2 linked regions of the Homo sapiens genome follow. The protein of the gene in region 1 purifies or fractionates together with the protein of each later gene. This does not show direct contact. Each region holds a gene or a part of one and is shown in the gene's direction. Other genes may lie near its edges.

The links. The genes of interacting proteins can lie anywhere in the genome.
Region 2: the proteins of RNF139 (region 1) and ATF6 purify together in Homo sapiens (affinity purification with mass spectrometry, with the first as the bait; one large-scale study listed by BioGRID). This does not show direct contact.

Annotation. Positions count from the first base shown.
Region 1 is NC_000008.11:124,480,299-124,485,874, forward strand, and holds part of RNF139 (E3 ubiquitin-protein ligase RNF139), read left to right. Parts: intron 1-2,961; exon of another isoform or gene 2,962-3,109; intron 3,110-5,532; coding exon 5,533-5,576. UniProt on the Homo sapiens protein: E3-ubiquitin ligase; acts as a negative regulator of cell proliferation through mechanisms involving G2/M arrest and cell death.
Region 2 is NC_000001.11:161,790,320-161,794,217, forward strand, and holds part of ATF6 (cyclic AMP-dependent transcription factor ATF-6 alpha), read left to right. Parts: intron 1-1,088; coding exon 1,089-1,218; intron 1,219-1,804; coding exon 1,805-2,008; intron 2,009-3,898.

The DNA of each region.
Region 1 (5,576 bases):
TAATGAAGATTGATAAACCGAATGATATTGAGGTTAAAAACCTATGTTAATCAAAAGATCGCACCACTGCACTCCAGCCTGGGCAACAGAGCGAGACTCCATCACTAAAAAAAAAAAAAAAAAAAAAAGGAAGTCAAATCTTGGGTAAGGGGGAACTACTGTACTTACATTTACCCATTTATTATAAAGGCAATTACAAAGGACACAGATGAATTAACCCGATGGAAGGAGATGTACAAGGTGAGACAAAGAAGGAGAGAAGAGGAGAAGGGGCGTGGAGCTTCAGTGTTCAGCTATCTGAGAGCTCACAGAACTCAGTCCTTTTGGGCTTCTATGGAAGTTCATTAAATAGGCAAGATTGATTAGATCACTAGTCATTGGTTTATGGACTCAAGTTTCAGCTTCTTTCTTCCCAGAAGTGGCGGCTGGGGGTAGGAATCAAAGTTATAACCCTTAATCACTGGGCTGATTCCCCTGGCTACCTAGCCCCCATCCTGAAGCTATCTAGGGGCCCCCAGGCACCAGTCATCTGATTATTGTACAAAACAGTCATCACTCCAGAGATTCCAAGGATTTTAGAAGCTATGTCAGAAAATGGGACAAAGACCAAATATTAATATTTTTTTTATGATATCACAGATGGGAAAGACAAACTAGAAAAACTTGCTTTAACTCTTCATTTAACACCTCTCTGTAGGGTTTGGCTTTTTAAAATCCATGTTCATATATTTTTGATAAAAGCATACTTATTATAAGTTTAGTTTAAAAGCAAAAGTTTAATTTTGTGTTAATACTTAGAATACCAGGTTTTTTTTCAACCTAAAATGAGAATCCAATAGAAATGTTTTCTTTATAATTTATCAAGTATACCAACAGATTAACAACATTTCAAGACACTTTGTTGTAAACTTCATTGCGGAAGGCTCCCTTGGGAGTAAGGTAGTAGTAACATTTATTTCTGTGCTTTTCCATATTTATTCTGTCAGGTATTGAAATGTTTTTCCACAGGTTGCTTTTTGTTTTAGAGGTATTTCGGGTACTTGGAGAATTGTAAATATTATGTTTTGTACCCTGATTTTTAGTCATAAGTTTCCAAAAGAGGGTAAGGGTATGAATAGACTTTACACATAAAAGAGTGAAACACTTTGTTATGTAACATGTATAGTAAGTTTTTATTTTTTCTTTTGTTTTTATTTGCCTGTTTTTGGTAATCCAAATTGAAAAGGCCTGAACTCTTTCATGAGTTGAGTTCATATATAGTTTCAAAGTTCCTGAATTGATTTGGATACCTGCCTCTTTTTGGCTACCTTGAAAACTCTAGTGAACTCTCTTAATCACTGGAGAATTGGACTGAGATCTCTGAGTTGTGATTTCAGTAAATTCTGTTCTCAAAATTTTTTATAAAGCAGCATTTATATACAGTCTTGATTACTTGTGCAAGTCACTTCCAAATCCTAATGAGAAACTGTCTCTGGACTTTTATATTTTCTTAGACCTACAGTTTAAATACCAAGAAAGGCTTTCATGTCTAATGTAAAAATGCAGTGAAACTTTGATATTATTCTGCAAAGGCCATGAGAAAGATGATTACTTTGGAGACTTGTTACTTAGGATATTGGTTTTTAAAATGAGAGCAGATTCTTCCCAAATTCCATAGGTAGGAACGTGACTATAAAAGGAAAATCTATGAACCCCATATACCTACAAACTTTGGGTAGGAATTAAAACAAACATATACTATTCTTGAAATGTTAACTCACTATTACATCTTGGGGGGTGTGATTTTAATCAGGATAGAGTATTGTCAGATTGTTACTTGCTGGGATACATCCAAATTTTGAGGTTGTAGTCTTACTACATTATTTGTCTATCTGATGCCTTCCCCTTTTTTTCTTTGATACATTTGCATAAAGCAAAATGGCACTTTTTCACTAGAAATGTTTCTAAAACCCAAATAATTTCTTCATTTGTGTGTAGTAAAAACAAGCTTCAGGAAAAAAGTTATTAGAATTTTAAAAATTAGTTATAAAATTATGGCAAAGCTCATGAATAGTTACTGAAGATTAATTTACTACTTTGTGAATAGCAAGTTGACAAAAATAATTTACAGTTCCTGCTTGACTTTCTCCCCTCTAAGTGGCATAAAGTAGAACTAGAGTTATTTTGTTTTGGTTTTGACCCAACTTAGAAGATTTGTTTTAAAGTTTCTGAAGTTTTGTCTCAGGAAAATAAGGTGGTTTTCCATGTAGAGAATGTAAGATTACATATGGCATCTGGTAGGCTGAATTAATTCCATTTTCTTGTTACCTTCCATGGAAGAAGTTTCTAATAAAAAAATCTTTTCAGGGCCGAGCGCAGTGGCTCACGCCTATAATCGCAGTAGTTTGGGAGGCCGAAGCGGGTGGATCACCTGAGGTCAGGAGTTTGAGACCAGCCTGACCAACGTGGAAAAACCCTGTCTCTACTGAAAATGCAAAATTAGCTGGGAGTGGTGGTACATACCTGTAATCCCAGCTTCTTGGGAGGCTGAAGCAGAAGAATCGCTTGAACCTGGGAGGCAGAGGTTGCAGTGAGCCAAGATCACGCCATTGCACTCCAGCCTGGGCAACAGGAGCGAAACTCCATTAAAAAAAATATAAAAAAAAATATATATATATATAATATATATATATTATTTAAATATATATATATTTAAAAATATATATATTAAAAATATATATATATATTTAAATATATATATATTTAAAAATATATCTATTAAAAATATATATATATTATTTAAATATATATATATTTAAAAATATATATATTAAAAATATATATATTTAAAAGAGCCTGTTCTGAGCTCACAACTCTTTGGGGGATTATTAGTGGCCCATTTTCTTGGGGAATCAGGTGGTTTGTATTTAGAGGTTTATATGTCTTCTACTTTATTGTGTCCTTTTGTTTTCCTTTTCACAGATGACTTGACATTTTGGCACAGAATACATTTTAAATCCCTGGACAGAGTCATCACTTAAATGAACTAGCCCTTGCTTATATGTGCAGTGGATTGTGAAATGCGTCTACTGTAATAATATGCAATGTCTTGATTACCTGCTGAAATAAGGTGGATAGATGGATTTTTATTTTATTTAATATTTATTTATTTATGTATTTTGAGACAGGGTCTCACTGTCACCCAGGCTGGCATGCAGTGGTGCGATCTCAGCTAACTGCAATGCCTCCCGGGTTCAAGCGATTCTCCCACCTCAACCCCCTGAGTAGCTGGGAGTACAGGCACGTGCTACCACCCTGGCATATTTTTATATTTTTGGTAGAGACAGGGTTTCACCATGTTGACATGGTCTTGAACTCCTGGCCTCAAGTGATCCACCCGCCTCAGCCTCCCAAAGTGCTGGGATTACCATTGTGAGCCACCACACCCAGCCAAGATGGATTTTTAATTTGGAGTTTGTCACTTTTTCTGTACTCCAGGGTATGGTTTCTCATTGTCTGAAACATAGATTTTATTTTTCAAGCAGGCTATATTTTGTGGTTGCCTTTAAAAACATCCAGATGTGACAGACATTTCCTAATGAATACTAATTGTACTTATTTTGTACAAAATATTGTAGAATCCATAGATGGACAGGGTAGGATCTTTGCTTTCTGTTATAGATACATGTGTAATAGGGTAGATTATACTTAGATAACTGCAGACTACAATATCAGGTGATATATGAGTGTTAAATGTTTCACTAAGTTCTGCAGGTATGCTGAAAGAACAGTTTCTATCAAAGAAAGTAGGTTTCTAGGATAGGTAGGATTTGAATAGTCAGGGATTGGGAGGTTGGGGACATCATTCCAAGCAAAAAGAATGTAAACACTGCTGTAGCTATAGTGGAGAAAGGAATGTGTTTGGGGAATCCAAGTCTGGAGCACTGATGTGTGTGTGTTAGGAGGAATATTACTGTAAAGCAAATTGGGTTCTTGAATGCCAGGAGCAAGAATGTAGATTTTAGTTGATAGTAATTTCAGAGCCGCTGAAGTATTTTGAGCAGGGAATGAAGAAAGGCAATTTGGTGATGGCTTGTAAATGGATTTGGACAAGATGAGGGTTTTTTGAGACAGACTGATTGATTGGTGTCACAGAAAAGGGAGATAGAGGTGTTAGAAGAATTTGGCAACTAATTGGCAAAGTTTGAGCATGTGGGGCTGGGTTGGGAGTATCTCTAAAAGAACAATAATGGTACCTTCAACTGAAATAGCAAATCACAAGGAAAAGCTGATTCTAGTTTAAGGCAAGTCGAGTTTCAGAACTTTGGAGATTTGCAGTTGTAGGAGTGAAAGTAGGTGAGTATTCAGATGTCATTCCCATTGTTGAAACCTTGGATAATAATGTGTTTATTGTAATCCTACTTAAAATATGCATTTCTGTCAGAGTACAAAGAAAGATGGTGTCTATGGAGTGGGGGAAGGAGAATTACCATTTTCTAAAAACATGTCTTGGTTTTCTGAGTGTTACTTTTGTAATGTGAAGAACAATAAAAAGAGTTGACTATTTTAAGAAACAGATTCAGCATTATACAGGAAAAAGGGAACTTGGAAGATGTTTCTAAGTCCGAAGGAAACTAGGAGGAAAAAAAATGGAATTTTGGACCCTTTGGAGAATGCTCAGAGTTAAGGAGTAGGAAATAAGAGCTGGCATGAGTTCACAGTTTGAAGAAAAGGAGGAATTAAGTGGAAGTATAAAACTTGAACTTGATTTCCTAAAGAATCCTTTAAAAAAAAATCTAAAACTTGGCTGGGTGCGGTGGCTCACGCCTGTAATCCCAGCACTTTGGGAGGCAAGGCGGGCGGATCACTTGACGTCAGGAGTTAGAGACCAGTCTGGCCAACATGGTGAAACCCCGTCTCTACTAAAAATACAAAAATTAGCTGGGCATGGTGGCAGGTGCCTGTAATCCCAGTTACTTGGGAGGCTGGGGCAGGAGAATTGCTTGAGCCTGGGAGGCAGAATTTGCAGTGAGCTGAGATTGCACCAGTGCACTCCATCCTGGGCAACAGAGTGAGACTCTTGTCTCAGTCAGTCAATAATAAATGAATCTAAAACTTAATAGGAATAAATGTTTTCCATTTGGGTTATTTTTAACCCAATTTTTAAAATTAATTTTAATGATTATGAAATGATAAAAGACATATTCTTTTGAGTTTTAAAACTTGTTAAAATGTATGTACCACTACAAATTCATCTTGAAAATAATTTAGTAATTTGGTGCCTTGGACAGCTACAGTGTTACTTGAAATACTTTGGAAATTAGAAAGTAAGGAATGAAATTTTAAAGAATAATTTAGTATGTTTGGTCTGTTCTCCTGAACTCTGACTTTACAAAACCTTTATTACCCTTTAAGCCTTAGTTGTCTTGAGGCTTAATGTTCATAACTGAAAATATTCATATTTCCTAATTAAAGGAAGAATATCATAACTCTTAGTGGGGAAACATTCTTACAAATACTTCATTCAAATGACTTTTTCTTTCTTTCTTTTAGGTGTATTTGCATCCAGTATTGTTCTGATCTTGTCACAACGATCA
Region 2 (3,898 bases), on another chromosome or scaffold:
TTATGAAGTAGAGATTATGTCTATTGCGTGATCATGCATGCCATCTTTTCTGTCTGAATTGAATTGCTACTTCTATGTTGTTTCTTTATTCTAACAAAATGAGATAGATTCACTGAATATTAAAAGACTTTGGGAAAATGCGAATGTTATCTTTATGTATCTCAATCATTATGAATTCACCTACTAAATTAAAGAAAATAGCACTGTTGGCTGGGTGGGGTGGTTCACGCCTGTAATCCCAGCACGTTGGGAGGCTGAGGTGGGTGGACCATATGAGGTCAGGAGTTTTAGAGCAGCCCAGCCAACATGGTGAAACCCCCTCTCTACCAGAAATACAAAAACTTAGCAAGGCGTGGTGGCACACATCTGTGGTTGTAGCTACTCGGGAGGCTAAGGCAGGAGAATTGCTTGAACTGGGGAGGCAGAGGTTGCAGTGAGCTGAGATTGCGTCACTGCACTCCAGCTTGGGCAACAGAGTGAGACTCTGTCTCAACAACAACAACAACAACAACAACAACAACAACAACAAAGCACTGCTCCATTCATGCATCTTTCTTTTACAACATTTGGAACAAAGGCAGTATTACAAAATAGAAAACAGAAAAGAATACAAATAAAATTATTTTGCTTTTGATATTCTTTTAAGACCAAATAAGAGAGATTATGGAGAAAGGATATTGGCATTTTAACTGCAACCTTATACTGATACTGAATGTTTGTATGACTACGAACCAAGTTTTATATGTGTGTGTGTGTGTGTGTGTCTCTGTGTGTGTGTGTGTGTCTCTGTGTGTGTGTGTGTGTGTGTGTGTGTAGTTTGTAGGAAGAAATGTAGCAACAGATCAATGATTCATATCTTTAACAGGATGGCATAGACTTACTCTGCATTTTGAGTTATTTTTCCTTTGGTATAGATGGATCATGCTGATAGTCACTTATTACTTAATATATATATACAGTTTCTAATATACCTTTCCTTTGAAGTTACCCTGAAGTGTTTTTCTGTTTATATGTGGGTCTCCTCCTTTTCTATGCAATTTGCTGCTTAAGGATTATACTCATTAATTTTTGTTTTTATTATGCTACAGGAGGAGTTGGATTTGTCTTCTAGTTCTCAGATGTCTCCCCTTTCCTTATATGGTGAAAACTCTAATAGTCTCTCTTCAGCGGAGCCACTGAAGGAAGATAAGCCTGTCACTGGTCCTAGGAACAAGACTGGTATTACTCTATCTCCTAACTTCTGTTATTTCTATTTCAGATTGAGCTTAGGTTCCATTTCTTAAAAGAAAATGCTGGATTAAATTTATGTTTATTAGGCTGGCTTGCTGTTTTTTAATTGGTGGACCTATATTGTTTGTTGTGAGTGATTACCGTGGAGAGGAAAGGGGAGAAATAATCTTTGGTTGTCTCTGTCTTTACAGGTGAAAGATACTTTAAAATAGACTCAGACCCCACCATCTTCAGGAGAGATTTCAAAGTTTCAGTTAAAGATAACTGAATGGAGCTATGACATTTGTTACCTCATTAATCTCTGGGTGTTATCCCGTGATTTTAGCAATTCTCCTTTACCAGTTAGTGTGTCCCATTCCCAAAACTGCAGCTTGGTTAGAAAAGGAGGTAACAGTTTAAGTACTTTTCTTCAGTTCATTCAGGTATATGTACTGTAGCTATGCTTAAACTCCAGTTAAAGATTGTTAATCGAAGTTAAGATAATGTGTAGAGAAAGGTGTGTGATAGAATCTGTTTTTTAGGGCTTGCGTAATTGCTTTCACATTGACTTGTGGTTTGTCTGGTTTTTCTCCAGAAAATGGACTGACTCCAAAGAAAAAAATTCAGGTGAATTCAAAACCTTCAATTCAGCCCAAGCCTTTATTGCTTCCAGCAGCACCCAAGACTCAAACAAACTCCAGTGTTCCAGCAAAAACCATCATTATTCAGACAGTACCAACGCTTATGCCATTGGCAAAGCAGCAACCAATTATCAGTTTACAACCTGCACCCACTAAAGGTACCTGAGCAGAATTTAAGGCTGTGTAAATTTATTTGGAGGGCAGTAAGGGTTGTGTCATATGATTTGTTTTAATTCAGGTTATAATTTCTGAGCACGTGCTGTTTGTCAGGAATGTCTTTGGTTATGAGGACGTTGCAGAGATGACTAATGTGTGGTTCCTGTCATAACAAGGGATATAGCTCTCCAGACCAGTTACATCTGATGGTTATTTTGAAAATCTGGGACACTTTCTTGGTGCCATTTTATTCTGGTGGATAAAATACAGGAACACAAATTTTAAGCTAGTTGAAGGCAGAGTTCAGGTCAGCCAGATTTTTGTGGCTGTGAACTTTTTTTGTTTTGAAGGAATATTTAAAATAATAGGGTCCATTTCAGGTGTGTTATAGCAATAGAATCACACCCTTAATCTCTGAGGAGGCTGCATGGTTTAGTAAACAGTATATTGACCTGGTCATGAGGAGACCTGAACTCTGCTTTCAACTAGCTAAGAATTTGTGTGTTTCGTATTTTATCCACCAGATGGCCTCATACACTTGTGATTCTATGAGAGGTTTATGTCATTATTGAAAGAAGTTCAAGTCTGAGGATTTGGTACTATTCAGATATGGGAGTCATTTCCGTATGGAGATCTCTTAGGTAGATTAGTCATCATTGTACTCATACTGATATCTGTATACACTGGGTACAAGAAAACTTTTGCAGCATTCTTATCTCTGGATTTAGTTTGTTGGCACCAGATATGACTAGGCGATAATGGGGTATGGGTTGTAAATAAACACCAATGTTACATTTGTACTGTATCTCCAATTGTGAATAGGTAGCTCGTTTTTTGGAGCATAGTTTTAATGAGGGTAAATTTGATAAATTTAATTTCCAGATACTCTTTTAGCTTTGTTCTATTACATGGTCATAGACAATATGACATTGATAAAAAGAAGACCTAGATGAGAGAATGGATGAATCAGTGAAAATTCATCCATCAGTCCCACCAAAAATAAACAGACAAACAAACAAACAAAAACCAGTTTGAAATGCCTGCTCTCTCAGTACAAAGTCAGAACTGCTGCCTTTTCCATCTGAAAAGTAGCATTCCTATAGAATAGGTATTCTTGTGATTTATAAATGTGTATTAAGGGTTCATGAACTCCTTGAAACAAAATGCAGGATTTAATGTATGTTCATATGTGGATTATTCTAGGGATAGTCTCCAAAACTTTCATTAGGATCTCATAAGGATCTGTGCCTTCCCAAAGGCTAAGAATTTAAACTAATGAAGAACCTCATTGTAGTTCCCATAAGCTATTAAAATACGTCTATACAAAAAGTCTGACATTAATATGACTAGCGTATAAAGCAGGGGTATTCCTAAGAATTTGCCCTTAGCAGATCATTGACTATGTTTGAGTGATGGAAGATCTTACCTATAATAAGAAGACAAACTGTTCTTTTCTGAGCAGTTTATCAGTTCCAGAAACCTGAATTACACATTATTTGAAACTTCAATACTTTCCTGTCATCTGAAGACTATAGTTATTTTTTTGTGAGCATGTGCTAATATGAGGAACTGCACCTTGCCTGTTTTTTTTCTTTTATTTGAGACAGAGTCTCGCTGTGTTGCCAGGCTGGAGTGCAGTGGTGTGATCTTGGCTCACTGCAACTTCCACCTCCTGGGTTCAAGTGATTCTCCTGCTTCAGCCTCCAGAGTAGCTGGGACTACAGGCACGTGCCACCATGCCCAGCTAATTTTTATATTTTTAGTAGAGACAGGGTTTCACCATGTCGGCCAGGATGGTCTTGATCTCTTGACCTCGTAATCGCCTGCCTCGGCCTCCCAAAGTGCTGGGATTACAGGTGTGAGCCACCGCGCCTGGTGCCTTGTCTGTTTTT